Regions from separate parts of the Homo sapiens genome. Here all the other regions are linked to region 6. The links come from fine-mapping of genetic effects on gene expression. A gene starts in region 6. Each other region holds a variant in brackets. All regions are shown on one strand. Distances are from middle to middle. Region 1 holds the start of SNORA49 (small nucleolar RNA, H/ACA box 49). Region 2 has its middle 20 kb from the start of LINC02361. Region 3 has its middle 56 kb from the start of SNORA49. Region 4 overlaps EP400 (E1A binding protein p400). Region 5 holds the start of EP400 (E1A binding protein p400). Region 6 holds the start of NOC4L (nucleolar complex associated 4 homolog). Region 7 overlaps LOC124903058 (a long non-coding RNA gene).

Region 1 (4,000 bases), 110 kb before region 6:
TGTCATTCTGTTTCTCAAGTAACTGTTTTTCATCACTTTTTGATAAAGGAGGAAAAGACCAGACTCTTGAAAGAGCGCCTGGATCAGATTTATTTAGTCAACGAGCGGCGCTGTTCTCAAGCTCCAGTCTATGGCAGAGACTTGCTAAGGATTTGTGCCCTGCCTAGCCATGGAAGGGTACAGTGGCGTGGGTCCCTGGATGGCCGTCGTGGGAAGGAGGCCGGGCCAGCGCACAGTTACACTTCATCCTCAGAAAGTCCAAGTGAGCTGATGTTGACGCTTTGTCGGTGTGGAGAGTCTCTGCAGGATGTTATTGACAGGTACTGCAGACCTCGTGACCTTTTCGGTGCTCTCTGGCTGCATTGCACCCCGGCAAGACCCCTTCTTGTCTCGTGGATGTACATCTTACTCCCATCGGCTTCTCCCCACGCTGTCCCTTAGCGGTCTGTTTTGAAGTTAGTCTTTGAGGTCTTCAGCTTTGGGATCAGATGGTTTTGTTATCTGGGTCTCAGTGCCAGGTGCGGCTTCTGAAGGAAGTTGGCAGCCCTGGGGGCAGAGCCGCAGCACTGAGCTCACACTGTGCTTGGGGACAGATCACTGTGTTGCTAAGGACTTTCTCCATTTGACTCTTTCAAAAAATGATTGCATTAAAAGAGCCCCATGAGTGAGTGAACATTACATGATGACAAATGTGGGCAGGAGTTGATCTCAGAACGTGCTTTAATGGAGAGCAAATCTGAGCACCGGTGGGCACGGTGGGCACCCGGCCGCTCTCAACTGAGCTTGCTTTCAGTAGAGTGCGTTACCCTGTTTGCATTTCCACTCCCTGCTTGGACCCCATCTCCAGGCTCCACTTCAGACATGTTTTCTTCCCTTCTTTGCAGCTGTTGTAGTTCTCAGTTGTCTCCTGTCTGCAGAGGGCAACCTGGCTTCTTCCTGTGCCTTGGCTCAGCTCAGCTTTCAGGATCTACCTATTTCAGTTCTTTCAGATCAGGAAGCAGAATTAATGGAAAAAAAGAAAACTGGGAGTGCTTCTCCAAGGCCGAACAAGCCACTTCTGGCTTCTCCTGGTCTGGGAGTGACTATGTCAGTGACCTTGTGCTCCTGGAGTTTTTCTTTCGAGTACTGATTTGTCTTTGTGTACTCCTCCCTCATTGAACATCATGGGTGACCATTCGTTCAGTTTGAATACAGCTGGGAGTGAGTCATAGTTGATGTCCATAGCAAGGGCCTTCTGGTGCAGGTGACCTCCACAGGTTGCAAGGTGGGCCTTAGGTTGGCTGTGCGATCTTCGCTCTATTGTCATTGTCCTGAAGGCTCCTTCACCCTGAGTCTGGCCCCCGTCCTGGTGGCACAGTGGCTATAGCAGTTCTAGGGTCCACGAGACAGTGCACCTTTGTCCCAAAGTTTCCAGCTGAAGACACACTAGAAAGAGAATGGCTTATCTCTGACCTGGTGCCTGCGGCCTAGGGAATCCACCCCCATTGATCCATCAGCCCTGGACTGTCTGAATTAGTCCCCGAGGTGGTGGTTATTGGCCAGGACTGGTTAGGATCTGCCTCGTTGGGCCCCTGCCCGTGTGCCAACACCCACATCCCCATGTGACTGGGTTGAGCCCTGCTGTTTCCTGGGACTTGGACTGTCAGAAGTCTGCCCCATCTTTCAGGAGCCCCCATGCTGGGTGAAGGTGTGTGGCTCCTGGTGGTGACAAAACATGCTTTCTGCTCCTCAGGGTGGCCTTTGTGATTCCTCCGGTGGTGGCAGCACCCCCGTCCCTACGGGTGCCGCGGCCGCCACCCCTGTACAGCCACAGAATGAGGATCTTGAGGCAGGGCCTGAGAGAGCACGCTGCGCCGTACTTCCAGCAGCTGCGGCAGACCACGGCTCCACGCCTGCTGCAGTTCCCTGAGCTGAGGCTGGTGCAGTTCGACTCAGGTATG[C/T]GGCAGTTGGGGGCGTGGCCCGTGCGGGAGCTGCACCGGCCCTGGATGATGAGGCGCTCTTGATGTGATTCGTTTCCCAGGGAAGTTGGAAGCTTTAGCTATCTTGCTTCAGAAATTGAAATCTGAAGGACGTCGGGTGCTGATTTTATCACAGATGATTCTTATGTTGGACATTTTAGAGATGTTCTTGAACTTCCATTACCTCACCTATGTAAGAATCGATGAAAATGCCAGCAGTGAGCAACGGCAGGTGAGAAGCACATTGTTTACATTGTCTCTGATGGGTCAGTCACTGGTGTTGAATGCCTAAGTGCTGTGTAAATTCAGTGGTCTCATGGCCCTTCTAAGTGAAAGGGGAGGGACTTAATGAGCTTCTGAACTTTTTAAAGTCTCAATCCATCCTTCGATATTTTTTATTAAAAGCCACGTTGTTAGGTAAATGCAGTCTTGATGTCTCAGAATAAATGCCGGTGACCTGCAATCATCATTAAGACGATACTGGCGTACTTCAAGAGGTGGCTACAGGGTAAAAATATGAAAACAATTCCAACCAATTTAGAATGAAGGGAAATACAAGTTAGGGTAATATGCCCATTGTTTACTTACAAGATTTGCCAAGGCTGTTTTGTTTCATCAGGCACAGTGAGTCAGACACTCTCATATCCTCCCGTGAAAGCATAAACTAGTATAGTTCTAGAAGGCAGCCTGGCAGTATGGATTTGAACCTTAATAGTGATGTATGCTTGACCTAGTAATTCTGTATTTAGGACCCTTTACTTACATGACAACAAACACACCACTTAAGATCTGTCTACATAGTTGTTGTTGAAATGTTTATGGTAATTCACAGTTGAGAACAAAGTCAGTGTTCAGCAGAAGAGTGAGTGCATAAGGGGTTGTCCATGGGCCCCGTGCCCTGGCAGCTTCATGAGCAGAAACTGCCCAGCATTTCACGTGGTGTGCTAGGCCCTTGTCAGCAGCATTTCAGAGCCAGTTTTAGTAGCATGGCCCAGTGTCCCCCAGCGCAAAACCAAGTTGCTGCCCTGTAAGTCGCGCAGCCTGCTTTATCTCACACACACGCTCATGTACACGCTGGAGAGGCCTAGAAAGAAATAGAGCAAAAGGTGATTTAACAAGTTTTCTTGGTAATATTATAGCAAATTATCTGTAGAATGCCTGGAAGGAAGAGAGTTGGTCAGTGATTAGGTTTCGTTTCTGGCACAGAAATCGTTATGGAAGAAAAGTATTCAAGTCATCTCCCTTCATGGTCAACAGTGAGGTTAGAGGACTATCCTTCACGGTTTTGTTTTTCCTGCTTCCTCAGCCTTACTCCAGGGACTTTTTGTTGCCTGTAAAGTGCTCTGGCATTGCCTGAGGATAGATGAGAAAGCACATATCCCTCCCCAGTAAGACGCTGTTTTCTTTTGGGGCCTACAAGTTGAGCTGACAGTAAATGCAAGGTGGACTCTAACTTTTTCCTTCTTGTCACTCATGGCTGATGTTATTTAAACTGTGCATGAGGGTGTTGGCGATGGGTGAGCGTAAGATGATAGTGGCTGCACAGAAGAGCTGGAATACAGTGCGGGGACCTTGGTGTTGCTTTAACATGAGCCTCGTGTTGAATGGAATACAAACCAAGCAGTTTTGCTATGGGATAATTTCTTTTTTGAGACAGAGTCCTGCTCTGTCGCCGAGGCTGGAGTACAGTGGCGCAATCTTGGCTCACTGCAGGCTCCTCCCGGGTTCACGCCATTCTCCTGCCACAGCCTCCCAAGTAGCTGGGACTGCAGGCGCCTGCCACCACGCCCAGCTAATTTTTTGTATTTTTAGTAGAGACGGGGTTTCGCCATGTTAGCCAGGATGATCTCGATCTGCTGACCTTGTGATCCACCCACCTCGGCCTCCCAAAGTGCTGGGATTACAGGTGTGAGCCGCCACGCCCGGCCTGCTGTGGGATTATTTCTAATTAATAAATGTTGAAACGTGTCAAAGGTTTCCCAACATTTTCCAAGAATACTAACTCCTGTGTTTTGTTTCATCTTAGGAACTGATGAGGAGTT
Region 2 (4,091 bases), 25 kb after region 6:
GGGGACTCCCTCCTCCAGAGTCCCAGGCCACCGAGCAGCACAGGCACCCGAAGCTGCCATGCTGAAATGGCAACGCAGAGAGACCTCTGGGCCCTACTCTTCCTCTCCTTGAGCCAGACACTCCGACCACAGAATCCAAGGGAGGAGATAAAGTGATTGGCATTGCTTAAGCCACTCAGCTGTGGGGTTCTTGTTAGAAGGCAGTAGGCGGCCGCAGCTGTGAGCCTGAAGGGGTCACTCCTCCACCTAGGGTGGGCACCCAAGCGAGGAGCTTTTGGGAAAACACCCGGCTCGGGGCCACCCTCCCTCTCTGCAGCCTCTTCCCTGCCCGGAGCCCTGAGCCTCTCAAGGGCAAGCTGGAAGGAGAGTGGCCGGTGGCAGGGAGGCAGAGCTGGCATTGGGATTTGCTGGGGCGGTAAGTGTGCAGGACGGGGGCCATTCACACAGCAGCAGAGGAGGTCACGTGGGCCAGAACCCAGGCGGAAATCGGTAGGTTTAATAACAACACACGAGGCCGAAACAGCGTCCCCAAGGGTTGCCCACGATGGCTTTGTTCTCGCCAGATGTGCACGCCCACAGCACGTGCGGTTTCCGAGGTGAATCAGCATTTCTGGAAACCTGGCAGGGATTGAAACCTGGGGATCCCGAGACACAGCTGAGTGTAGGGGTCGGGGAGGCGCTGGAGTGGCTGTGGAGGGCAGGATGTGGGGGCAGTCACTTTCTGGCCTGGGGGCTGAGCCTTCTGGGCTCTTCCCAGGTCAGAGCTGGTCTGGCGGCAGCGTCAGCGGGGCTGGACGAGGGTCCCCAGGAACGCTGCTGAGCCTCAGGCCCACGGGGCTTCCCAGCTGTGGCCTTTGGTTGGGCTGGACTGGAGGAGATGAACAAGCTGGGAGGAGGGGCTCTGCAGCCAGCCCTCTTGCTCGCCACTGAGGTCCTGAGCCTCAGTTTCCCCTGAGTGAAACGGGTTGGGAACAGCCTTCTCCATGGGCTTTCTGCAAGTCACAGTGAGGCCGGCCACACGTCCCAGCACAGTGAGCTTGTGGGGAGGGGGGCCCACTGGGGTCCTCTGGGGGCCGATGCTGAGACGGGGTCTAGGCCGGGATAACGGGATAGTCCATTGCTGGGCCAGGGCTGCTGAGCGTGGGTGGGGACTGCCGACTGCAGTACAGACCCAGACGGCAGGAGCCCGGCAAAGCCTGCCCTTCCGAGGAGCCTCACGTCGGAGGAGCTGCCTGGGCTGTGCTGGCGCCAGGCTTAGAAGCCGGGGCCCCAACTCCGATGGTGCCGGGGCTGAGGCTGTCCCTGGCTCTGGGGGTACATCCTTTCTTGATGCCAGGGAGCAGGATGCGGGGTTGGGAAGGAGTTGGGTTGTGGGCCAGGGACCCCGTGGGCCTTTCATGGGGCCAGCAGGGAGGGCGTCTGCTCCCACGGCGGGTGGTGGGATGGCTCCACGTGGTCACAGGGCCAGGAGCACCAGCACCGGCTGAGCCTTCTTAGAAATGCAGAGTCCCGGGTGCACCCTGCCTGCTGTGCCGCACCGGCTCCCTTTCTGGTGGGGTCCCGGCCCTCTGGCGGAGTGCACTGAGGGATCTGGGGGATAGGAGCCCCTGTGGTGGCCAGCACCCTGCCCCTCCCGGCTGGCCCTGGCGTCTGTGCACCGAGCTGGGGGCCACTGAGTCCTGGGTGTGACTCCCACGTGCCAGGGGCCCCTGGTCCTGGCCCCACCCCAAGGTGCTTTCTGGGGAAGGTGGGCCGTGTGGCAGGGGGAGACAGCGGGGAGGGTGGGCCACGTGGCAGGGGGAGAAGCAGGGAGGGCGGGCCACGTGGCAGGGGGGAGACAGCGGGGAGGGTGGGCCACGTGGCAGGGGGAGAAGCAGGGAGGGCGGGCCACGTGGCAGGGGGGAGACAGCGGGGAGGGTGGGCCACGTGGCAGGGGGGAGACCTCAGGGAGGGTGGGCTGCGTGGCAGGGGGAGACCTCGGGGAGGGTGGGCTGCGTGGCAGGGGGAGACAGCGGGGAGCCAGGGCCGGAGCCGGCCAGTGTTCTTTAGGGAACACAGCCCCTGCCCG[T/C]GGCAGGCACCCCAGGGCGGGGACGCTGAGGGGTCTCAGCTCCTCTGAGCAGCTCCCACCTGCCCCTCCTGGCTGCTGGCCTGAGTTCCTCCCTGAGCCTGGGCCACCGCCAGAATCACGTGTCCAGCACGGGCAGTGGCAGGTGAGACTGGCAGGTGGCCCCAAACCCCGGATGTCGGCCAGGACGTCTGCGGCATAACCTCTGTCCATCTGACACGGGGGCCCCTGAGGCTGCTGGCCCCCCACCTCCCATGGCACCTGGGTCCTGGTAGGAGAGCTGACCTGAGTGGGGCGTGGGCTTGAGGGGCATGGGTGGAAGGACCCTGGGTCTCATGAGGGCGCTCTCTCTGCACTCCCACCACGCCCCAAAAGAAGGGCAAAGGCAGAGGGGATCCTGTGAGTCTCTGCAGGGTGGACATGTTCCCTGGTGGGGAGGGCAGCTGGAGGTCTGATGCCCCTAGCCTGGACCAAGAACTCGCAGACTGGCCTGGTGGCTTCTGAGCACACACAACTGAGGTCAATTTTATGCTCTGGAATTGATTTCAAATTAAATTTTGTTTCTTTCGACCCAGTCAATACTTGGAACAAGTTCTAATCAGGAGAGCGATTCGGGGCTCACACCCTCCTTCTGTAGGCTGGGCTCAGGCCTCATTCTCAGTAAGGAACGTTGTGATGTCAGCCCTCTTCCTGCACTAGCAAAAGTGCCATTAATCAGCCTTTCTGACGGTTACAGGAATTCTTAATGATGCATTTATTTACACAGATTTCTCTGCTCTGGGTAAATTCTTTTCTCCCCGTGCCAGACCACAAAGTACATGGCAGTCGATAGCAGAATTATGAGAAACGCAATTTACTTTGCGGATCTAATGAGCAGATGAGTAGAAAGTCGCCAGCCCCAGCCTTGGCCGCCACACACATCCTGGCCCGCTCCTCCTGGGAAACGGGTCTGTACTGCCTGGTGCTGGGCGGGGGCGGCCTCGTCATCCTCCAGTCACATTTTTCCAAGCACACTGTGGTCGAGCCATGGCCCCAGCCCCTTTCTGTCCCCATCCCCCAATGTCCCCGGGGCAGGTCCCTTTAATACACAGGGGTGCCTTGGGCAGGCCCTGGCTGGGCCCTCTCCATCCTGGCAGACACTCCCAGGTTCTGTCCCGTGCTGGAGGTGAACACGCTTGTCACTGGCCAAAGAGTGAGCTGGAGACAGTTTGCACGGCAGGGGACCCTGTGGCCACAAATGAAGTCCCCCGGTGTGTGTGTGGAGAGGGGGGGAACAAGAGGACATTGGCTGCCCTGCAGCCCCATGAGGACGAGGACCATGCCCCGTCCAGCGGGAGGCTGGTGGACCCCGGGTTCCGATGACGCTGAGCCAGAGAGCCAACGCGACCACGTTTTGGGGAGGGAACCCCGGCACCTTGGGGCGTCAGCAAGGGGCATTGACTTTTGGCCACCTAAGGAGTACTGGACATCACACATGTGCACACCCATGAGACCAGCACACACAGGCAGGCACAGGTGCACTCACACCCTCCAACACCAGGCAGAACGCGCGTGCAGACACCGGTGTGGCCTCAGTTTCTGTCCCTGGGGCCCGTGGAGCTGTTGCCAGATCAGGCTGTGCAGTGCTGCGTGGGACCCACCGAGGAACTTGCCCAGCCGCGTGCATGGTAGCTACGATGTGGAGACGTTGACGGTTTCCATCTGCCTTGAATTGTGATGCTGCCGGTCAGGGAGCAGCTCTGGGGGACCAGGCCTGGCCACCTATGATGGTGTTGGTGGAGACGGCTTCCGACGAGGTCGGGTTCGTGCCTAGGCGTGTCCTGCACATTCGAGGCCACAGACGTGGGGATGTGTGGGGTGTCGGGGGTGGGGACCGGGAAGACCTGGCAGGGGGTGAGGGGGCACCAGGGACACTGGAAGCCCTTCCAAAGCATCCGAAAGTCCCCGAAGGGCCACATTTTTCAGCCGTTCTGGGCCTGTAGCCAAGAGGCCCCTGCCCTGCCCACTGTCACCTCCCCAGGGGGCC
Region 3 (4,091 bases), 58 kb before region 6:
AATCTAATAATACCACCACCTTTACAGTAAAGACGCTGCGAATTGACGCCTTTTATAATAAAGACACTTATCTTGCCCAAGAGCTGGGTGAGTATTTCCTCCTTACCAAAAAGTTGGTTTACTTACAGTTAACTGGCTGAAAGTTTGAGTCTTAGGCTTATTTGTGCCGCTCCAGGCAGGCTGATTGGCGCTGGTTTCCATCTGTCAGATTGGACAGCAGTACCACTGGCTGTTGGGGGCTCACGACCAGATAGAGTCTTGTCTGGGAACCACAAGTGAGTGTTGTTACCACAGCTCTGCAGCAGTGAGGGCACCTCTCAATCCACGTGCAGTCGCCCCACCTTATCTTCAGGGGATACGGTCCAACACCCTCAATGGATGCCTGAAATCAAGGATAGTAGTGAACACTATATACACTGTTTTGTTATGCATCCTTCCATATCTACGATAAAGTTTAATTCATAAACTAGGCACAGGAAGAGATTAATAACAGCTAATAATAAAATAGAACAGTCGTAACAATATACTGTAATAAAAGTCATGTGAAAGTGATGTCTCTCTCCTAAAATATCTTACTGTATTGTACGCACATGTTTTTGAACTGCAGTTCACCGAGGGTTACTGAATCCATGGATAAGGGGAGATTACAGCAGTTTCTTTTCTGACTATGTTATTGAGACTTCAAAACTAACTAAATTGTTCGTTGAATGGAATTGTCCAAGGTGTACAAAATGACAGTTGTAACACAAAGGTGTTTCACTGACATCCCTGTCACGTTTTTGCTAAACTAATGCACTTTTAAAAATTATTATTTATGCTGGGTGTGGTGGCTTATGCCTGTAATCCCAGCACTTTGGGAGGCTGAGGCGGGCAGATCACCTGAGGTCGGGAGTTCGAGACCAGCCTGACCAACATGGAGAAACCCGTCTCTACTAAAAATACAAAAAAAATCAGCCAGGTGTGGTGGTGCTTGCCTGTAATCCCAGCTACTTGGGAGGTTGAAGCAGGAGAATCGCTTGAACCCAGGAGGCGGAGGTTGTGGTAAGCTGAGATCACACCACTGCACTCCAGCCTGGGCAACAAGATCGAAACTCCGTCTCAAAAAATATATATATTACTTATAAAAGTCTGTACTTCATGTTCAGTCACAGTAGAGACAAGTAGAAACTCCCTCCTTCAACAATACCTAGCACTCAAGGAGAGATGGCCTTACAGAGTCAGCATGTGGTGCAGAGGTCTCTTGGCCATGATTTTAGGTCCTCCTGGGTCCACATCGTCCCACCTGGCCATGGATACGTTGTCATCTGATCTGTTCACTGTTAAGGTAACAGTTGTCATAACTACTACAAAATGGTTAAGTGTTAGGACTTTAATGATGGTGATCATGTAATAAAGGGCCTGGAGGATAATGGCATGCTTACGAATTTTCTGGGTGGTATTCACATGTTTGAAAAAGCATTGAAATGTATGATTTTGGGTGATGACTCTGAGAAGTATGGAGCATGACCCATTTTGAATAGGAGAACAGAATGTTGTAAAGTGATTCTTGGTCCCCTAAGAGTCCATTGACAACCACCATGTAGAGGAAAAATGGCAAAGAATGGGCTCTCTCCAAAGTCAGGTGCTGAGGCCCTTCTAAGGAGGAAAAGCCAACGCCCTTTCACTGTGGTTTCCAGCTGCTACAGGAACAAATAGTGTCTATCTGTGTCCAGCTTATTTTTTGACTTCTTTGAGTCTGAAGATACTTTGAAAAACTTTGATTTGCCAGAGTAATTTTTTGTACCTTGGAATGAGCCATATTTTTAATTTGCTTTTTGATGTTACAAAATGTACCCTCATAAGAATTCAAACAATACAGAAAAATAAGTCCTTTTCAGTCCTTTTGTGCTGTAATAACACCCTCCATCTTTTTTTCCATTTCAGTTAGTAATATGTCTTCAACATCTGCTCATGTCAGGAAATAAAAATTTATTCTCTTTTTTTTTTTTTTTTTTGTTTCGAGACGGAGTCTCGCTCTGTCGCCCAGGCTGGAGTGCAGTGGCGCGATCTCAGCTCACTGCAAGCTCCGCCTCCCGGGTTCACGCCATTCTCCTGCCTCAGCCTCCCGAGTAGCTGGGACTACAGGCACCCACCACCATGCCTGGCTAATTTTTTGTATTTTTAGTAGAGACGGGGTTTCAC[T/G]GTGTTAGCCAGGATGGTCTCGATCTCCTGACCTTGTGATCTGCCTGCCTCAGCCTCCCAAAGTGCTGGGATTACAGGCAAAAATTTATTCTTTTTATGTTTACATAATAGTCCGTACTGAGGATACAACATATTTAGTCAACCATTCCCCATTGATGGATTTCATTTTGTGTCTGTTTTTTTGCCACAGTTTGTACTGAGAGACACATTCCTATGCATGGGTCCTGACACTTTCTTTCATTTCTACAGGCTAGATTCCCATGAAGGGGAGCTAAATGGTGTTAGTGGGTCAAAGGGTATGCATATTTAACATTTAAATTTCAATAGTTATTGAGAGATCTATTCCCAAAGTTATAGCAAAGTTACATTCCTGAAGCCATGAAGGGGAGGACGCTTTGCTCCCGTCTGACATACTGCCTGTTGAATGGGTGCTGCCATGTCCTGCTGGCGCCGTGTGCTGCACTTCGTGGACTGGCCCATTGGCAGTGCCTCTTCTGAAGTTTTCCATTGTGTTCTTCCCCATTTCCTGGAGAGGTTTCCTTTTCTTTTCTTTTCTTTTTTTTTTTTAACTATTTTATAGTAGCTCTTTTTTGAGATGGAGTCTTGCTGTGTCGCCCAGGCTGGAGTGCAGTGGTGTGATCTCGGCTCATTGCAACCTCCGCCTCCCAGGTTCAAGTGATTCTCCCGCCTCAGCCTCCAGAGTAGCTGGGATTACAGACGGGCACCACCACACCTGGCTAATTTTTGTATTTTTTAGTAGAGATGGGATTTCACCATATTGGCCAGGCTGGTCTCAAACTCCTGACCTCAAGTGATCTGCCTGCCCTGGCCTCCCAAAGTGCTGCACTTACAGGTGTGAGCCACCGCAACCAGCCAAACTCTTTGGATAACAGGGATATTTACCCTTTGAAGTAATAAAATATTGCATGTATTTTTCTGCTAATTATTTTTTGTCTTTTGATCTTGTTTAAAACATCTTTTATGTAGTCATGTATTTTTTCCTTTACAGCATCTGGGTTTCCTGCATTACTTATTAAGAAGCTTTCACCACCTCGCAGTTGTAGAGATAGTCCCCGAAATATTATTCCAATAAAGTGTTTTCCTCCTTTCCTCCCTGCCTCCTCTTCCTTCCTTCCAGGATAACATTTAGTTCTTTATTCTGACTGAAATGGTATGAGGTAGGGGTGTTTTCCTCCTTTCCTCCCTGCCTCCTCTTCCTTCCTTCCAGGATAACATTTAGTTCTTTATTCTGACTGAAATGGTATGAGGTAGGGGTGTTTTCCTCCTTTCCTCCCTGCCTCCTCTTCCTTCCATGATAACATTTAGTTATTTATTCTGATTGAAATGGTGTAAGGTAGGGGATAACCTTTTCCCCCCTAGATGCTACTACCATTTCTTTTTCTTATTTTAATGTAATTAAAAATTTTAAAGGAAAGTTTTTTGAAACAGAGTCTCACTCTGTCACCCAGGCTGGAGTGCAGTGACACAATCTTGGCTCACTGCAAGCTTGATCTCCCGGGCTCAAGCAATTCTCCCACCTCAGCCTCCTGAGTAGCTGGGACCACAAGTGCACAGCTAATTTTTGTATTTTTAGTAGAGACAGGGTTTTGCCCTGTTGCCCAGGCTGGTCTTGAACTGCTGGCCTCAAGGGATCTGCCCACCTCAGCCTCCCAAAGTGCTGGGACTACAGGCGTGAGCCACCATGCCTGGCCTTAATTTTTAATTGATAAATAATTGTTGTATATATTATATATTTATGAAGAACGTGATGTCTTAATGTGTTTATATTACAGAATGATGAAATTGTGCTCATTAACAAACCCATCACCTCACACACCATTTTTATGTGGTGAAAATATTTAAAATCTACTCTTTCAGAAATTTTGAAATATACAATGCATTCGTATTTA
Region 4 (4,000 bases), 170 kb before region 6:
GCATTGCGTGTATTTCTCTTTGTTTCCAGAAGGTTTTGTGGTTGTGTTGAGTGCAGCTATAGTATAAAAAATACTACTAATATTATTATGGTTATTTATGTCTTATAAAAACCTCCTGATTGGAGCATTTTTTTCAGTGATTATGATGTTAGAGAAAATGAGTAATTATTTATGGTTTTGTGATCCTAACCCAACTGTTGTTTCTTACGTTACTTTACGTATGTGTTTGTATTTTTTTTTTTTTTTTTTGAGACAGAGTCTTGCTCCGTTGCCAGGCTGAACACGATCTCAGCTCACCACAACCTCTGCCTCCTGGGTTGAAGCGATTCTCCCACCTCAGCCTCCCGAGTAGCTGGGACTACAGGCGTGTGCCACCATGCCCAGCTAATTTTTGTATTTTTAGTAGAGATGGGGTTTCACCACGTTGGCCAGCATGGTCTCGAACTCCTGACCTCAGGTAATCCGCCTACCTCAGCCTCCCAAAGTGCTGGGATTACAGGCGTGAGCCACCGCGCCTGGCCAGTTTTTTAATTTTTTTGTAGAAATGGAGGTCTCACTTTGTTGCCTGGGCTGGTCTTGAACTCTTGGGCTCAAGCAGTCCTCCCGCCTCGGCCTCCCAAAATGCTGGAATTACAGGCATGAGCCACTACACCTGGCTTCATAGTTTATTTCTTTGTTTATTTAAATAGGGCAGAAATTTTCCTTTTGGTAGCTGCCAACTACTATTGGTCTTAATTTCTACCTTCAGAATACCATCAATCTGTCCTTTTAGGTGGCAGATGTTCTGTGAGCTTTCTTCTGCTGTGTTTTCCATGGATAAGCTCTGTTTTGGTATTGTCTCTCCTAAATGGGCACCCAGAATTAAATTCCCTTCAGAGTGTTTTTTCTTTGTGAGAAATTCTCTTTTTTAAAGAATTGTCATAATGGTTTTTGATCAAAATCAAGGTTGCATTTTAAAGACAAGAGTATCTTCTGTAATCCCAGCACTTTGGGAGGCCGAGGCGGGCGGATCACGAGGTCAGGAATTCAAAACCAGCCTGGTCAACATAGTGAAACCCCATCTGTACTTAAAAATACAAAAAATTAGCCGGGCTTGGTGGCAGGCGCCTGTAATTCCAGCTACTCGGGAGGCTGAGTCAGGAGAATTGCTTGAACCCGGGAGGCAGAGGTTGCATTGAGCAGGGCTTGTGCCACTGTACTCCATCCTGGGCGACAGAGAGACTCCATCTCAAAAAAAAAAAAAAAAAAAAAAGACCAGAGTATCTTTACCAATAATACCTTCATGGAGACAGAATAAGGTAAAACTAAAAATAATTCTGAAAACCAAGGCTGAGTGTGCCGTGCCTGGAGGAGTTCCTGTGTCTTCTGCAGAACCCAGGGGCAGCAGGACCCGTGTGTCCTGAGTCCTCTGGGAAGCAGGCTGAGTGTCAGCCACAGCCGGGGAGCAGTCAACAGGGCGCACAGTCCTCCCTGTCAGTGCTTCTTGAGCAGAAGTTTCTCATTTTAATGAAGTCCAGTTTATCCGTGTGTTCATGTAGATATCCAGTTTTCTAGCACCGTTTGTTGAAAAGACTGTCTGTTCCCCATTGGATTGCCTTAGAGGCTTTGGAACACTGTGTGAGCGTGGGTCTGATTCTTGGTGCGCAGCTCAGTTCTTCTTATCTGTGTGTTGGTCCTTACGCCAGCGCTGCACTGCACTGTCCTGGTTCCTGGAGTCTTGGGGCGTGTCTTGAAGTCAGGTCCTTCACTTGGTTCTTCTCTCTCAATAATCTTTTTTCAGGCTCACTGATTTTTAAATTTTTTTTTCTTTTTCTTTTTTTGAGATAGGGTCTCACTCTGTCACCCAGGCTGGAGTGTGGTGGCGTTCTTTCGGCTCACTGCAACCTCAGCCTCCAGGGCTGAAGTGATCCTCCCATCCCAGCTTCCCAAGTAGCTGGGAGTACAGGCCTGTGCCACCATACCTAGCTAATTTTTGTATTTTTGTAGAGATGAATTTTCGCCACGTTGGTCAGGCTGGTCTTGAACTCCTGACCTCAAGTGATCTGTGTACCTTAGGTTCCCAAATGGCTGGAAATACAGCATAAGCCACTGCGCCTGGTCAATTTAAAATTTTTTGTTTGTTTTTTGGAGATGGGGTCTCATTATATTGCCCAGGCTGATTTTGAACTCCTGACCTCAAGCAGTCCTCTTGCCTTGACCTCCCAAAGTGCTGGGATTATAGGCATGAGTCACCATGCCCCGACTGATTTTTTCACATCTCCACACTGATGTTACGCCTATCCAATGAATTTTTTTTTATTTCGGATGTTGTATTTTTCACTTCTAGTATCTCCATTTCGCTCTTTATTTTAATAGTTTCTGTTTTGTCAAGATTTCTTCTTGTCTTTTATTG[C/T]AGTATATTTTTCTTTATGACCTTGGGCATACATATTAAGGTCACTTTAATATCCTTGCCTGCTTATTCTAGTACGTGGGTCATCTTGAGGTTGGTGTCTGAGTATGGCTCGTGTTTTTTGTTTGTATTTTGGAGTAATTTTGTTTGTATTTTGGAGTAAGTTTGAATTGGATTTTGTACAATTGTGCATGATATGTAGAAACCCTGGGTTCTGTTATATTCTTCTGAAACGTATTTATTTTCTTTAACACTTAACTTGATTGAATTAAAAATGCACACTCTGGCTGGGTGTGGTGGCTCACGCCTGTAATGCCAGCACTTTGGGAGGCTGAGGCGGGTGGATCACAAGGTCAGGAGTTTGAGACCAGCCTGGCCAATATGGTGAAACCCTGTCTCTACTAAAAATACAAAAATTAGCCGGGCATGGTGGCGCACCTGTAGTCCCAGCTTCTCAGGAGGCTGAGGCAGGAGAATCGCTTGAACCCAGGAGGTGGAGGTTGCAGTGAGGCGAGATCGTACCATTGCACTCCAGCCTGGGCGACAGAGCGAGACTCTGTCTCAAAAAAACAAAAAACAAAAACGCCAAACAGCAACAAAAAACCTGCATACTCTTTCTCCTTTGTGGCAGGAGGCACCTGAAAACTCAGTTCAGTACTTGGGCCTTCTCTTGGATTCTGTTTTTGTGTACATGGTTTAGGTGGAGGTTAGGGAGAGAATGTGGGGCCTCCTCCTTTTCCATCTGTCTCTTGCTCTTTGTCCTCTTGTTCAAGCCAGTGAGATGCTATGTGTCTTTAGGTTTGAGCCGTTCCATAGAGCACAGACTGGGGCTGCCCTCATGCCAAATGCCATGAAACTGGAAACCTTACCGTGTTCTATTCCCTTCTTGCGAATATCACTTCCCTTCCTGTATCACTGGCCTACCTTTTCATATTTTTTTGTATTTCATCTAGAGTTTATGGTTACCTGGATTATGTTTTTTGTTTTTGTTTTTGTTTTTGTTTTTTTGAGACGGAGTCTCGCTCTTTCACCCAGGTTGGAGTGCAGTAGTGCAGTCTCGGCTCACTGCAAGCTCTGCCTCCCGGGTTCACGCCATTTTCCTGCTTCAGCCTCCCGAGTAGCTGGGACTACAGGCACCCGTCACCGCGTCTGACTAATTTTTTTTTTTTTTTGTATTTTTAGTAGAGACGGAGTTTCACCATGGTCTCGATCTCCTGCCCTTGTGATCCACCCACCTCGGCCTCCCAAAGTGCTGGGATTACAGGCGTGAGCCACCATGCCCGGCCTTGTTACCTGGATTATGTTTGACCGGATAGGAAGTACTTGGCCATTACTGGACACGGAGCCCTTTATCAAGTTTTTTTTTTTTTTAATTAAAAAATACTCTTTTCTTTGGTTGTATTGGTCATACATGTTCATTATAGAACATTTGGGAAATTTAGAAACGCACACACACACAAATCATGTCACCTGTAATGCTGCCCCAGAGGTAACCACTGCCAGGCCATTGTTTTCAAAACATTCTTTCCTTTCTTTCCTCCCTCTCTTTGTCCATTCCCTCTGTCCCTTTCATCTTCTTTCCTTTTCCATCTTGGTTAAATGTAAACGGCA
Region 5 (4,091 bases), 190 kb before region 6:
GGCTTCCTACACCCTCAGCCTCCCTGGGCTCAAGTGATTCTCCCTCAGTCTCCTGAGTAGCTGAGACTACAGGTGTATGCCACCATGACTGACTTTTAAATTTTTTGTAGAGATGGGGTCTCTCTATGTTGCCCAGGCTAGTCTTGAACTCCTGGGCTCAAGGGATACAACTGCCTCAGCCTCCCAAAGTGCTAGGATTACAGGCAACAGCCACCGTGCCTGCCCTTTTAATTGTTATGTTGTAAATTATTTACTTTGGACACGAGTTCCATGTCAGACATATGGACTTAAGGTAATTTCTCCTGTTCTGTGGATTATCTTTTTTAAATGGTGTCATTTGCAGCACAAAAGTTTTAAATTGTGATGATGTCCAATATATCTATGTTTGTTAGTTGCGTTTTCAGTGTCATATCTAAGAAACCATTTCCTAACCCACAACCCCGAAGATTTATGCCTATGTCTTTATCTGGAGACAGAATCTCATTCTGTTGCCCAGGCTGGAGTGCAGTGGCATGATCTCGGCTTACTGCAACCTCTGCCTCCCGTGTTCAAGCGATTCTCCTGCCTCAGCCTCCGGAGTAACTGGGATTACAGGCGCCTGCCACCACGCCCAGCTAATTTTTTGTATTTTTAATAGAGACAGGGTTTCACTATGTTGGCCCGGCTGGTCTGGAACTCCTGACCTTAAATGATCTTCCCGCCTCGGCCTCCCAAAGTGCTGGGATTATAGACGTGAGCTACGTCTGTGTCTTTTAATAGAGTTTTGTCGTTTTTGGCCGGGCGTGGTGGCTCACACATGTAATCCCAGCACTTTGGGAGGCCGAGGTGGGCGGATCACTTGAGGTCCGGCGTTCGAGACCAGCCTGGCCAACTTGGTGAACCAACCCCCCTACTAAAAATACAAAAAATTAACCAGGGGTGGTGGCGCGAGTCTGTGGTCCCACCCACTCGGGAGACTGAGGCAGGAGGATCACTGGAGTCCAGGAGTTCGAGGCCAGCCTGGGCCACACAGGGTTTGGGTCTTGCATGTGAGCCTGGTCTGTTTGGTGAATCTGCAGAGTGTGAGAGCTGGCGGCCCACTTCTGTTCCACGTGGGCGCATTTCCCGAACTGCGCGTGGAAAAGCCGGGCTGCCGCGACTCCGTCAGTCTCGGCCCCGCCCCCGCCTTCCTCAGTCTCGGCCCCGCCCCGCCTCCGTCTGTCTCGGACCGGCCCCGCCTCCGTCTGTCTGGGACCGGCCCCCCTCCGTCCCTCTCGGCCTTGGGTTCGGCCCCCGCCCACCCCGCAGAGTCTCGCGGCGCCCTAGTCCTCCGGCGCCCTCGACCTCCGGCGCCCTCGCGCGGTCAGAGCGGCGCCGCGGAAGCGCAGCTACGGGCGCGCGGACGCGCGTCCCTTCCGGCTCGCCGTAGCAGCCGCGCCGCCGCTTCCTCCCGCCGGGGCCCCGGATGCACTGAGCGGCTGCGGCGCGGCTTCCATCCTCCCGCCCTCCTGACGCGGCCGGAGCGCAGCCCTGAGGCCCAGGGTAAGTGAGGGCGGAGGCGCGGGACGGGGGCGGGAGGCTCTCGGGACGGCAGCGTCCAGGGTCCGGGGTCGCGTAGCCGCAGCCGCGGGCGTACAGGGCCCGCTCGCCGGCCGGCCTCGGGCGTCGCGTGGGGACCAGGCCGTGGCGGCTGTCGTGAGCGACCCCGGGCGGGCGACCGGGCTGAGGGCTCACGGGCCCGGGTCTTTCGAGTCGTAGCGCCCGTCCCCCGCAGGTCGCGCGATCCGCGCCCATTTCTCGTGGCCCCCCGGGCTCCTGGGCTGGGGGCGTGGCCGAGGGCAGCTCGGCGCGGCGGCGTTGCGGGAACCGGGGGACTCCGGCCCGCGCCTCCTGGTTCTCGGGGCTGAGGGGGTGGCTCTTGCTCCTGGCGCTTGCGTGGGCTTCCCTCGGGGTCACGGACGCGACGCTGAGATGCGGGGATGGGACGTCCAGAACCACTTTCCTGAGGCGCGACGGGGCGAATTCACTCAGAACTTAAGGACCCCGCGTCCCGGGCGTCCCGGAACGCGCCGCCACAGGGGTTACAGTGAGGTCCGAATCCGCTCCTTCTCGGCGTAGACCTGCCCGGTCCTCCACGGCGGAGCCTTAGTAATTGCCGCTGCCTCCCCGGGGGCGCCTCTCGTCACACACCTGCGGCCCACGGGCTTCTGCTCAGCTGTCGCTGTGTCAGTGACAGAAAAGTAACGTATCCCAGTGCTTTATTAGTAATTACTTTCTGAGACGGGGTCTCGCTCTGTTGCCCAGGTTGGCGTGCAGTGGCGCGATGACGGCTCACTAGAGCCTCGACCTCCCGAGTGGTTGGGACCAAAGGCTTGGGCCACCATGCCCGGCTCACTTTTTATTTTGTTTTGTTATTTTCTTTTGAGAAAGAGTCTCTCTCTGTCACCCAGGCTGGAGTGCAGTGGCGCGATCTCGGCTCACTGCAACCTCCGCCTCCCAGGTTCAAGCGATTCTCCTGCCTCAGCCTCCCGAGTAGCTGGGACTACAGGCGCCTGCCACCACGCCTGGCT[ATTTTTTT/A]TTTTTTTTTTTTTTTTTGGATTTTTAGTAGAGACGGGGTTTCATCATGTTGGTCCGGCTGGTCTGGAACTCCTGACCTCGTGATCCGCCCCCTTGGCCTCCCAAAGTGCTGGGACTGAAGGCATGAGTCACCGCGCCTGGCCAGTTTTTTGTGTGTTTTAGTAGAGACGGGGTTTCACTGTGTTGCCTAGGCTGGTCTCGAACTCCTGAGCTCAGGCAGTCCGCCCACCTCGCCCTCGCAAAGTGTTAGGATTACAGGCATGAGCCACCATGCCCGGCCAATTTTTTATTATTTGAGTTGGGGTCTTGCTGTGTTGCTCAGGCTGGTCTCGAACTCCTGACCTCAAACAATCCTACCGCCTTGGCCTCCTAGTGCTGGGACTGTAGGCGTGAGCTACCGCGCCGGGACACGTGGAAGTGTTAATAGGGCTTCTCTCTGGGTTCGTGGATGAGTTGTATTCTTTTTTACTTATTTGTGTTGTCATTTTCTTTAGCAGAATATGTGCAATAAAATAATTTCTGTAATTATTCTTTTTATTGTTTTTTTGTAGACAGAGTCTCACTCTGTCTCCCAGGCTGGAGTGCAGTGGCGCGATCTCGGCTCACTGCAACCTCTGCCTGCCAGACTCAAGTGATTCTCCTGCCTCAGCATCCCGAGTAGCTGGGATTACAGGTGCCTGCCATCATGCCCAGCTAATTTTTTTGTATTGTTTGTTTGTTTTGAGACGGAGTTTTGTTCTTGTTGCCCAGGCTGGAGTGCAATGGCATGATCTCGGCTCACTGCAACCTCCGCCTCCCGGGTTCAAGCGATTCTCTTGCCTCAGCTTCCCAAGTAGCTGGGATTACAGGTGCCTGCCACCACACCTGCCTACTTTTTTTTTTTTTTTAATTTTTAGTAGAGAGGGGGTTTCAACATGTTGGCCAGGCTGGTCTTGAACTCCTGACCTCAGGTGATCTGCCCGCCTCGGCCTCCCCTTTGCTGGGATTACAGGCATGGTGAGCCACTGCACCTGGCCTTTTTTTTTGTATTTTTAGTAGAAAAATGGGGTTTCACCCCCCATCTCTACTAAAAATACAAAAAATTAATCGGGCGTGGTGGTGGGTGCCTGTAGTCCCAGCTACTCGGGAGGCTGAGGCAGGAGAATGGGGTGAACCTGGGAGGCGGAGCTTGCAGTGAGCGGAGATTGCGCCACTGCACTCCAGCCTGGGCGACAGAGCGAGACTCTGTCTCAAAAAAAAAAAAAAAAAAAAAAAGAAAAAGAAATAGGGTTTCACCATGTTGGCCAGGCTGGTCTCAAACTCCTGATCTCAGTGATCCACCCACTTCGGCCTCCCAAAGTGCTGGGATTACAGGTGTGAGCCACCGCGCCCGGCCCCAATAGCTTGTTTTTGTTTTTGTTTTTGTTGTGGAGACAGGGTCTTGCTCTGTCACCCAGGCTGGAGTGCAGTGGCATGATCATAGCTTTACTGCAGCTGTGACTTCTTGAGCTCAAGTGATCTCCTCCCAGGTAACTGGGACTATAGGTGTGTGGCAC
Region 6 (4,091 bases):
GCCAGCCACCTTGGCAGGAAAGGCTGGACCTGCCATCAAAAAGAAAGAGAGGCCAGGTGAGCGCTTTCCAGGCTCTCGCGCAGAAGCCCACGGTGGAAAAAGCTAGGGGAGGGAGGCTGGGGAAACCTCTGTCGTCTTCAGCTCCTTCTCAGCCCCAGGATGCGCTTTCCATACAGCCTTCAGAAGTTAAACAGTAAAAGCAGATGCCACTCCCTGAGCAAACTCACTCTGTAGCCTCCCATCAACCCACAGTGGCACCCACCCTCCCGCAGCCAGGAGGTCCTGTGACCTGGCGCTCGCCTGCCCCAGCCACGCCGGCGTCCCTGCCTCGAGGCCTCTGCCTGGCACCCCCAACCCCCAACCTTGACCTGGCTTCAAGTCTTTGCATCCCAACTCAAAGAGAACCTCCTCCACCTGCCCTACCTAAGGTGCCCGAGCACTCTGTCAAACTTCTCGCTTTCTTCACCTGTCTCGCCGGAAATCTCTTTACCGAAAACCACACGTGCTAAGCAAAAACACCAACGGTCAGGAGCTTGCAGAACGGCCTCTGACTTACTCCTGAGGCGGTGAGCGCACAGCAGGAAACCCCGCACGTTCACGCAAACACATCTTGCAGAACTGGCGCGGCGCGGCGGGAGGACAGGGGCAAGCCTAGCAGAGGAAACGGGAGCTCTGCACGTGCAGGATCCAGACCCCTAGGCGATGAAACTGCAGACCTGGCAGCGAGGCGCGGCTGTGACCCGGGAACATTCGCTGAACGAAATCTTCCGGGGCGACCGCCGCACTTAAGAATCCGCGCAGCCTACCCTCTCACGCCGACCACCCTCCCGCCCGCCGAGGCTCACCTTCGGCGCCTTCCTCTTCCCGAACCCCCCCAGCACCAGGCCGGGGACCAGGGGTCCGGCCGCCTCCTCCAGGGCCGGTCCATCTGGGGCCGCCTCGGCGCTGGCGCTGGTGCTGCGCTCCCCCGGCGCCTCCTCGCTGCTCCCTGCGCTGGGCTCCCCTGGCGCCTCCTCGCTGCTCCCTGCGCTGGGCTCCCCTGGCGCCTCCTCGTTGCTTTCTGCGAGGCAGACACCCACCCGGCAGCGCGTCAGCACCGAGTCGCCGGCGCCCCAGAGGGAGCCCGCTCGCCCCGCGGCCCACCTGCGCCCGCGTCCTCGCCGTCCGCCTTCCGTCGCTTTCCCTGCGGCGCCTCCGGGCTCCCCGGCTCCGCGTCGTTCACCCGCCGCCGCCGCCGGGGCCGCCGTCGCCTCCTGGTCGCCGGCTCGGTCGATGCAGCCGCCTCGGTCTGCGCGGGCTCCCGCTGCTGCTGCCGTTCGCGGGCCCGGCTCTGCAGCCGCTCGAGCAGCGCGCGGGCCCTGCCGTGCGCCCCGGCCTCCGCGCCCTCCGGCCCCGCCGCAGCTGCCGCATCGGGGCCCGGGTACCGCGCGACGTAGAACAGCGCCATGGCCAGCCGCACGCCTGGGACTCGGGCGTGGCGCGCTGCGATGACGTCGGCGGCACGCCTGCGACTCGGGCTCCGCGCAAAAGATGGGGTTGGGGTACGGCGCGTAGAGATGACGTCGGGTTCTACGCGCAGTGGTGACGTCACGGGAGCGCCGGCGGCTGAGAATCCGCGTTGTTCCGTGTTGGGGGCGGCATGGAGCGGGAGCCGGGCGCCGCGGGAGTTCGCCGGGCTCTGGGCCGCCGGCTGGAGGCGGTGCTGGCGAGCCGCAGTGAGGCCAACGCCGTGTTCGACATCCTGGCCGTGCTGCAGGTGGGCCTGGCGGCGTCGCAGGGCCGGAGTCGCGGCACGGGAGCGGGACTTGAATGGGGGGCTGCGGCGGCAGGTCCCCAGGAGGTTCCGAGACGGCGTTGGGGGGTCAGGGTGGGAGGCGTGTGGGTCACGGGTCGGGGGTGACGGGGCTGGCGTCCCGAGGGGGAAGGGAACGGGTTGGGGGCAGCCTAGGCAGGGGCGAAGGTGACAGTTGGCGGCCGGGCACCCTGCCGCCGCCTCTCCTGCAGTCTGAGGACCAGGAGGAGATCCAGGAAGCAGTCCGCACGTGCAGCCGTCTTTTCGGGGCCTTGCTGGAGCGGGGAGAGCTGTTTGTGGGCCAGCTGCCCTCTGAGGAGATGGTCATGACAGGTGAGCCCTGGAGGGCCCCGGGGCTGCTCTTCTCTTTCCGTGGGTCGGAGGGAGGCTTTGTCACCATGGGATGAGCGCCCCCAACCCTGGCACAGGCCGTGCAGGCTGGTGGGAGGACGCACCAAGCCCACCGTGGAAGATGGATGGTGGCGTTGGGGCAGGGGTGACATGGGTGCCCTGCAGCTGAGTGTAGATGAACACTGGACAAGGTACGACTTTTTGTGTGCTTTGCACCCCTTTTGTAATTTGATGTTGACTGATCCTGACACGGTCGCTTAAACTCGGAGCTTCCTTTATGTCCCCATCCTGGGGACGTCAGGTCTTGGAGTAAAGAGAGGGGATGTGGATCCTGCTCCTGGCAGCTTGGCTGGGGCAGTCCTGGGGTAGGAGGTGCTCTTCCTGTTTGCAGGGCTCAGGGAATGTGCTGGTCTCAGCACAGGTCTGGGGGCCTTAGCGACCTGTTTCCACCTGCGGAGGCTGAGTAGAAGACAATGGGAGGGTGGAGCCAGGCCTGAGATTTTGGGCTGGGCCCAGGGTGGCGTATGTGGGCCTCACGTGGGCTGACCACCCTAACCTGTCTGCAGGGTCCCAGGGAGCCACACGGAAGTACAAGGTGTGGATGAGACACCGCTATCACAGCTGCTGCAATCGCTTGGGAGAGCTCCTGGGCCACCCCTCCTTTCAGGTCAAGGTGGGTCATTGGGCTGGCCTCATCCTTGTCCATCCCCTGCACCCCAACTCCCAGGTTATCCACAAAGCAGAGGTCTGGGGCTCCCACAATTGTCCAGGCAAAGCTGCTTCCTTCATGGGAGCATCACCCTGTGGGTGTTCAGTCCCATTCAGAAACATGGCTATCGAGTCCTGTAGTGAATATTGAAGACGCAGAATCCGTGTTCATTTCCAGTGGCATCCACGGGGATCTCTGTGTTTGCATAGAGCACGCACACCAAGCCTCGTGCCAGTCCACAGATGTGTTTGCTCAGATCACACTGTGGTCTGCAGCCATGGGAATGCATTATGAGCTTTCTTAAAATCTGTAGTGAGGAATAACTGAGGCACAGTTTACCGTTTAAAGCTGAGAAGTTAGCATCTGTTACTGTGTTGTGCAGTGGTTGCCGCTATCCCAGAACATCTTTATCGCCCCGAAAAGAAATCCTGTACCAGTTACCATCGCTTCCATATCCCGCCCCTTTCCACCCCCAGCCCCAGGCAGCCACTCCTGGATCAGTGGTTACTTCCTGGATCAATGGGTTTGCTTTTTTTAGACGCTCCTCATAAGGGGGATCATACGGTATGTGGCTTCTTCCACTCATCGGCGTGTTCGAAGTTCGTTCTCTTTGTGGCTGAGTAGCAGCGCGTCGTATAGCACAGCACGTATCGTTCAGCCGCTCGTAGGTTGCTGGGCATTTGCGTCGTTTCCACCTTTGGCTGTTACGAACAGCGGACTGTGAACGTTCGCGTACAAACTCTTGTGTGATGTTTCTTTTGCTTGAATATGCCTTATCAGTGGAATTACAAGGCCACACAGCAGCTGTGTTTTTAATGTTCTGAGGAACTACAAGACTGTTTTCCATAGTAGCTGCGCTATCTTACCCTCCCCCTGGCAGCATTTGAGAGTTCCATACTCCACATCCTCGCCAACACGTCTGTCTATAATTATAGCCGAGCTGCAGACTTTTAAATGTTGGGGAGATACCACGTGAAAATAACCAGTTTCCACCTTCTCAGAAAGAAATAATCAGTTCTGTCAACACGGGGTCTAAGTTTGTTCATGGCTGCGATTGGCTGGAGGGAGAGTCAGAGACAGCTCTGAGACAGCCGTGTGCTCCTGTCATCCCGCACGAGGCTCTTTTGCTTTGTGGTGTCATTTGCCTGGGCCCTGAAAGCACTGAGTTTGCCACCCCGAGATGAGAGCTTCCAAGCCTGGGTCTGAGTTGGGCACCATGCTGGCATCACACGCCTGTGT
Region 7 (4,091 bases), 280 kb before region 6:
CCTGGGTGACGGAGCAAGACCCTGTCTCAAAAAAAAACAAAAAAAAAAAAAAGAAAGAAAAAGAAAAAAAAACAACAGAATATTAAAATGAATATGTAAATGCAGGAAAATCTGTTTTTTTTTTTCCTAAGAGGTGGGAGGAAAGACAATGGAACCTGGTGGATAAGAAAGAATTTCTGTCTGTCAGTTGCCTCAGCCTACAACGTGATGTACAACAGCTCAAAGACAACGAAAAGCTAGAATCTGACAGCCCTGGAGTACCTGCTCTGATTTAAAATGCATAGTTTTCCTGTGAAACACAGGTGTTTTTTTTTCTATACTATGGTGCTATTTTTATAAAGCTTAAAAACAAGCAGGCCGGGTGCGGTGGCTCACGCCTGTAATCCCAACACTTTGGGAGGCTGAGGCGGGTGGATCACGAGGTCAGGAGATCGAGACCATCCTGGCTAACATGGTGAAACCCCGTATTAGCCAGGCGTGGTGGCAGGCGCCTGTAGTCCCAGCTACTCGGGAGGCTGAGGGAGGAGAATGGCGTGAACCCAGGAGGCAGAGCTTGCAGTGAGCCGAGATCCCACCACTGCACTCCATCCTGGGCGACAGAGTGAGACTGTCTCAAAAAAAAAAAAAAAAAGCAAAGCTGGAAAAGATAGCTTCTAGGTATACACATGCACATACGCACTAAGATCGCTTCTAGGTATACACACACATACGTGCTAAGATAGCTTCTAGGTATACACACGCACATATGCACTAAGATCACTTCTAGGTATACACACACATACGTGCTAAGATAGCTTCTAGGTATACACACGCACATACGCGCTAAGACTGTTTAGTGAGAAGCAAGGAGATGATGCAGTGTCAGCGGGGAGTCTCGCAGCTGACACAGGGTGAGTCCTGTCTGACTCCATTTATGTGCAGTCCGGGGATGGGCACGCTAATGTCCAGAGGCTGAGATCAGGACAGTGACTCACTCGTCAGGAACGACGGGGCACCTGCCAGCTTCCTAGGGTCTGAGATGCCCTACATCTTGAGGGGCTGTGGTGACACAGGTGTGCATGTGAGCAAAAATGAATCAGGCTGTGCCCTTCATATTAGTGCACTTGACTGAGAATCGGTTACACTTCAGTAGAAATAACAAAAAACAAAGGAATAATAAGCGCAAAACTCAGGCATGAGTAGCCTGGTTGGGGAGGTTGGGAGGATGGGATGGGAGGACCACAGATGACAATGAAAATGACTGGGCCGGGCGCGGTGGTCACACCTGTAACCCCAGCACTTGAAGAAGCTGAGGTGGGAGGATCGCTGGAGGCAGGAGTTCGAGACCAGCCTGGGCAACTTAGTGAGACCACCCCCCCCGCCCCCAATCTCTACAAAAAGTAAGAATAAAAATAAAACAGCCAGTCATAGTGGTGCACGCTGTAGTCCCAGCTACTCAGGAAGCTGAGATGGGAGAATTGCTTCAGCCAGGGAGGTGGAAGCTGCAGTGAGCCAAGATCCTGCCATTGCACTCCGGCCTGCACGACAGAGCGAGACCCTGTCTCAGAACAAACAGAAAAAATAAATTGGAGATGTTCTTAGTTTTGGGTGAGGTGGTGATTTACAGGGTGTTCCTTATTTAATTATGCTGTTTATATGTGCTATGTATATTATTATGTATGTATTACATAGCAATAAAGAAAAAGGTCTGAGAAGATTATTTAAGTAAACATACAGGAATTCCCAGTATGTTCTTTTTTCTTTTCTCATATACAGTATTTCTTCTTCACGAAAATTTTCAAGCTTAGAAAGGAGTTGACTTGGCTGGGTGCAGTGGCTCACACCTGTAATCCCAGCACTTTGGGAGGCCGAGGCGGGCAGATCACCTGAGGTCAGGAGTTCGAGACCAGCCTGGCCAACGTGGTGAAACCCCCATCTCTACTAAAAAATACAAAAATTAGCCAAGCGTGGTGGTGGGCGCCTGTAATCCCAACTACTCAGGCTGAGGCAGGAGAATCGCTTGAACCCAGGAGGTGGAGGTTGCAGTGAGCTAAGATCAAGCCATTGCACTCCAGCCTGGGCGACAGAGCGAGAGACTCCGTCTCAAAAAAAAGAAAAAAGAAAAAAGAAAGTAGTTGACTGGGCCTGGCG[C/T]GGTGGCTCACACCTGTAATCTCAGCACTTTGGGAGGCTGAGGTGGGTAGATCACTTGAGGTCAGGAGTTCGAGACCAGCTTGGCCAACATGGCGAAACCCCGTATCTACCAAAATACAAAAATTAGCCAGGCAGGGTGGCAGGTGCTTGTAATCTTAGCTACTCAGGAGGCTGAGGCAGGAGAATTGCTTGAACCTGGGAGGTGGAGGTTGCAGCGAGCTGAGATTACGCCACTGCACTCCAGCCTGGGCAACAGAGCAAGACTCTGTCTCAGAAAAAAAAAAAAAAAAAAGGAGTGGACTGTAATTCCGGCACTTTGGGAGGCTGAGGCAGGTGGATCACTGGAGCCCTGGAGTGTAAGACCACCCTGGGCAACATGGCAAAATCCCGTCTGTGAAAAAAATTCAAAAATTAGCCGGGCATGGTGGTGTGCACTGGTAGTCCCAGCTACTAGGGAGGCTGAGGTAGGAGGATCGCTTGAGTCTGGGAGTTGGAGGCTGCAGTGAGCTATGATTTCTCCACTGCACTTTAGCCTGGGGCAACAGAGTGAGACCCTGTCTCAAAAGAAATTTTTTTTAAAAGAAAGTAGTTGAATGAACAGCCTTTTATAAGCACCGCACCTAGATTCCAGCATTGTGAGGGCTTTGGATGTTGCTTTATTTATTTTTGTGCTTGTTATAGCAATTTTGAAATAAAAACAGATATCATGACATGTCTCTCCTAAATATTTTCTCTCTCTCTCTAAGAAGGTGCACATTTTCCTACATAACAATATCACGATCACATTTGACAAAATTAACAATTCCGGCCCAGGCACCATGGGTCATGCCTGGAATCCCAGCACTTTCTGAGACTGAGACTATAGGATCGCTTGAGCCTAGGGTTCAAGACCAGCCTGGGCAACATAGTGAGACCCCTTATCTAAAAAACACCAAAAACACAATGATTTTGTAATGTTGTGTCAGACCCATCCATATTGAAATGTGTCCCATCCCCACACACAATGATTTTGTAAGGTCGTGTGAGACCCATCCATATTGAAATGTGTCCCGTCCCCACAAAATATCTTTACATGGATTCGTTTGAACGATTACCCCATCCAGGGCCACGTGAGTTGTGTAAACCTCTTGAGCTACAGTGGCTTCCTATTTCCTCCACGTTGTGAGTGAACATCAGGGCCAGTTGTCCTGTGATGGAAGCTTGAAGCCATGTGGGCCGGGGAAGATGAGGAGTACAGGGGCCCGGGAGGCGTGGCTTTGGTTTAGGTGATCAGGGACAGCCCCTTAGGAGGGGACATCCGGCTGAATCCTAAAGTCACAGAGTGCCAGCCTTGTGCGGTTCCAGCGGAGTATGAGCCTGGCAGGGCTGAGGTGGGAGCTCACATGACTGAGCTTGGCCCGAGGTGTGTGGTGGGCATGGAAGGATGGTTAGAAGTTACGTCGTGGGTGCTGAACCAGGGAACGGACATGAGCCCACCCAGGCCTGTGGCTGGCAGGGCCGCAGCTGAGTCACTTGCTGGCCAGGCTGCAGGCCTGGCTCTGAGCCCTTTGTGGCATCAGATCCTCCATCCTCGAGGCAGCCCATGGGGTTCCCTCCAGGGTCTCCAGGAGCCGCAGCCACTCAGCCCCATGCAGGTCTGTCCCCTGCCCCATGGCCATGTGCGCGGACTGGGGTGCAGCTGAGAATGGTTCCCATTCAGGTCCAGGGCCCGGGCATCTGACCCTCAGCAGGGCCACAGCAGGGCCACAGCAGGGCCAAGCAGCCACAGGCCAAGCTCAGAGCTGCAGCCCGGGACGCCTGCACCCTCCACGGGGTGCTGAGGCCAGGCTGGCTCCTGCAGGAAGGGCAGGATACCCACAGGCCAGCGGTGGGAAGGCTGGATGCACGCTGGTGCCACGGCCCAATCCACCAGGAGGGCAGCGGTGTGAGAAGGGCAAAGGGAAGTGGCCCAGGCCTCACGG

What was found.
Region 1: its variant is fine-mapped to the expression of NOC4L in prefrontal cortex (GTEx, PIP 0.97).
Region 2: its variant is fine-mapped to the expression of NOC4L in whole blood (TOPMed, PIP above 0.99).
Region 3: its variant is fine-mapped to the expression of NOC4L in whole blood (TOPMed, PIP above 0.99). The same link has a PIP of 0.9 or more in CD4 T cells, aorta, lung, skeletal muscle, sun-exposed skin and thyroid.
Region 4: its variant is fine-mapped to the expression of NOC4L in whole blood (TOPMed, PIP 0.97).
Region 5: its variant is fine-mapped to the expression of NOC4L in whole blood (INTERVAL, PIP 0.99).
Region 7: its variant is fine-mapped to the expression of NOC4L in pancreas (GTEx, PIP above 0.99).

Annotation. Positions count from the first base shown.
Region 1 is chr12:132,027,969-132,031,968 of GRCh38, forward strand. EP400 (E1A binding protein p400) reads left to right here. Exons shown (of 53, transcript NM_015409.5): 27 at 49-320; 28 at 1,733-1,935; 29 at 2,021-2,190; 30 at 3,985-4,000. It overlaps SNORA49 (small nucleolar RNA, H/ACA box 49), which reads left to right and starts at 3,256; the gene lies at 3,256-3,392. RefSeq lists a silencer at 36-330. The variant C/T (reference allele first, on the strand shown) is at 1,941.
Region 2 is chr12:132,167,405-132,171,495 of GRCh38, forward strand. No RefSeq gene overlaps it. Among named protein-coding and RNA genes, the nearest start is that of LINC02361, 20 kb to the right of the region's middle. The variant T/C (reference allele first, on the strand shown) is at 2,069.
Region 3 is chr12:132,085,230-132,089,320 of GRCh38, forward strand. It overlaps the pseudogene EP400P1. Among named protein-coding and RNA genes, the nearest start is that of SNORA49, 56 kb to the left of the region's middle. RefSeq lists enhancers at 1-433, 1-24 and a silencer at 1,209-1,385. The variant T/G (reference allele first, on the strand shown) is at 2,182.
Region 4 is chr12:131,973,758-131,977,757 of GRCh38, forward strand. All of the region lies in intron 2 of EP400 (E1A binding protein p400), which reads left to right. Among named protein-coding and RNA genes, the nearest start is that of EP400, 26 kb to the left of the region's middle. The variant C/T (reference allele first, on the strand shown) is at 2,393.
Region 5 is chr12:131,948,516-131,952,606 of GRCh38, forward strand. EP400 (E1A binding protein p400) reads left to right here and starts at 1,427. Exons shown (of 53, transcript NM_015409.5): 1 at 1,427-1,521. RefSeq lists silencers at 999-1,048, 1,139-1,838 and an enhancer at 1,891-2,598. The variant ATTTTTTT/A (reference allele first, on the strand shown) is at 2,550.
Region 6 is chr12:132,142,850-132,146,940 of GRCh38, forward strand. It overlaps NOC4L (nucleolar complex associated 4 homolog), which reads left to right and starts at 1,608. Exons shown (of 15, transcript NM_024078.3): 1 at 1,608-1,756; 2 at 2,005-2,125; 3 at 2,710-2,816. The coding sequence starts at 1,640. It overlaps DDX51 (DEAD-box helicase 51), which reads right to left and starts at 1,470. Exons shown (of 15, transcript NM_175066.4): 1 at 1,144-1,470; 2 at 846-1,060; 3 at 1-29. The coding sequence starts at 1,447. RefSeq lists enhancers at 1-461, 1,391-1,690 and silencers at 1,061-1,260, 1,331-1,380.
Region 7 is chr12:131,864,433-131,868,523 of GRCh38, forward strand. It overlaps LOC124903058 (a long non-coding RNA gene), which reads left to right. Exons shown (of 2, transcript XR_007063537.1): 2 at 1-104. Among named protein-coding and RNA genes, the nearest start is that of ULK1, 28 kb to the right of the region's middle. RefSeq lists enhancers at 1-251, 3,392-3,988. The variant C/T (reference allele first, on the strand shown) is at 2,131.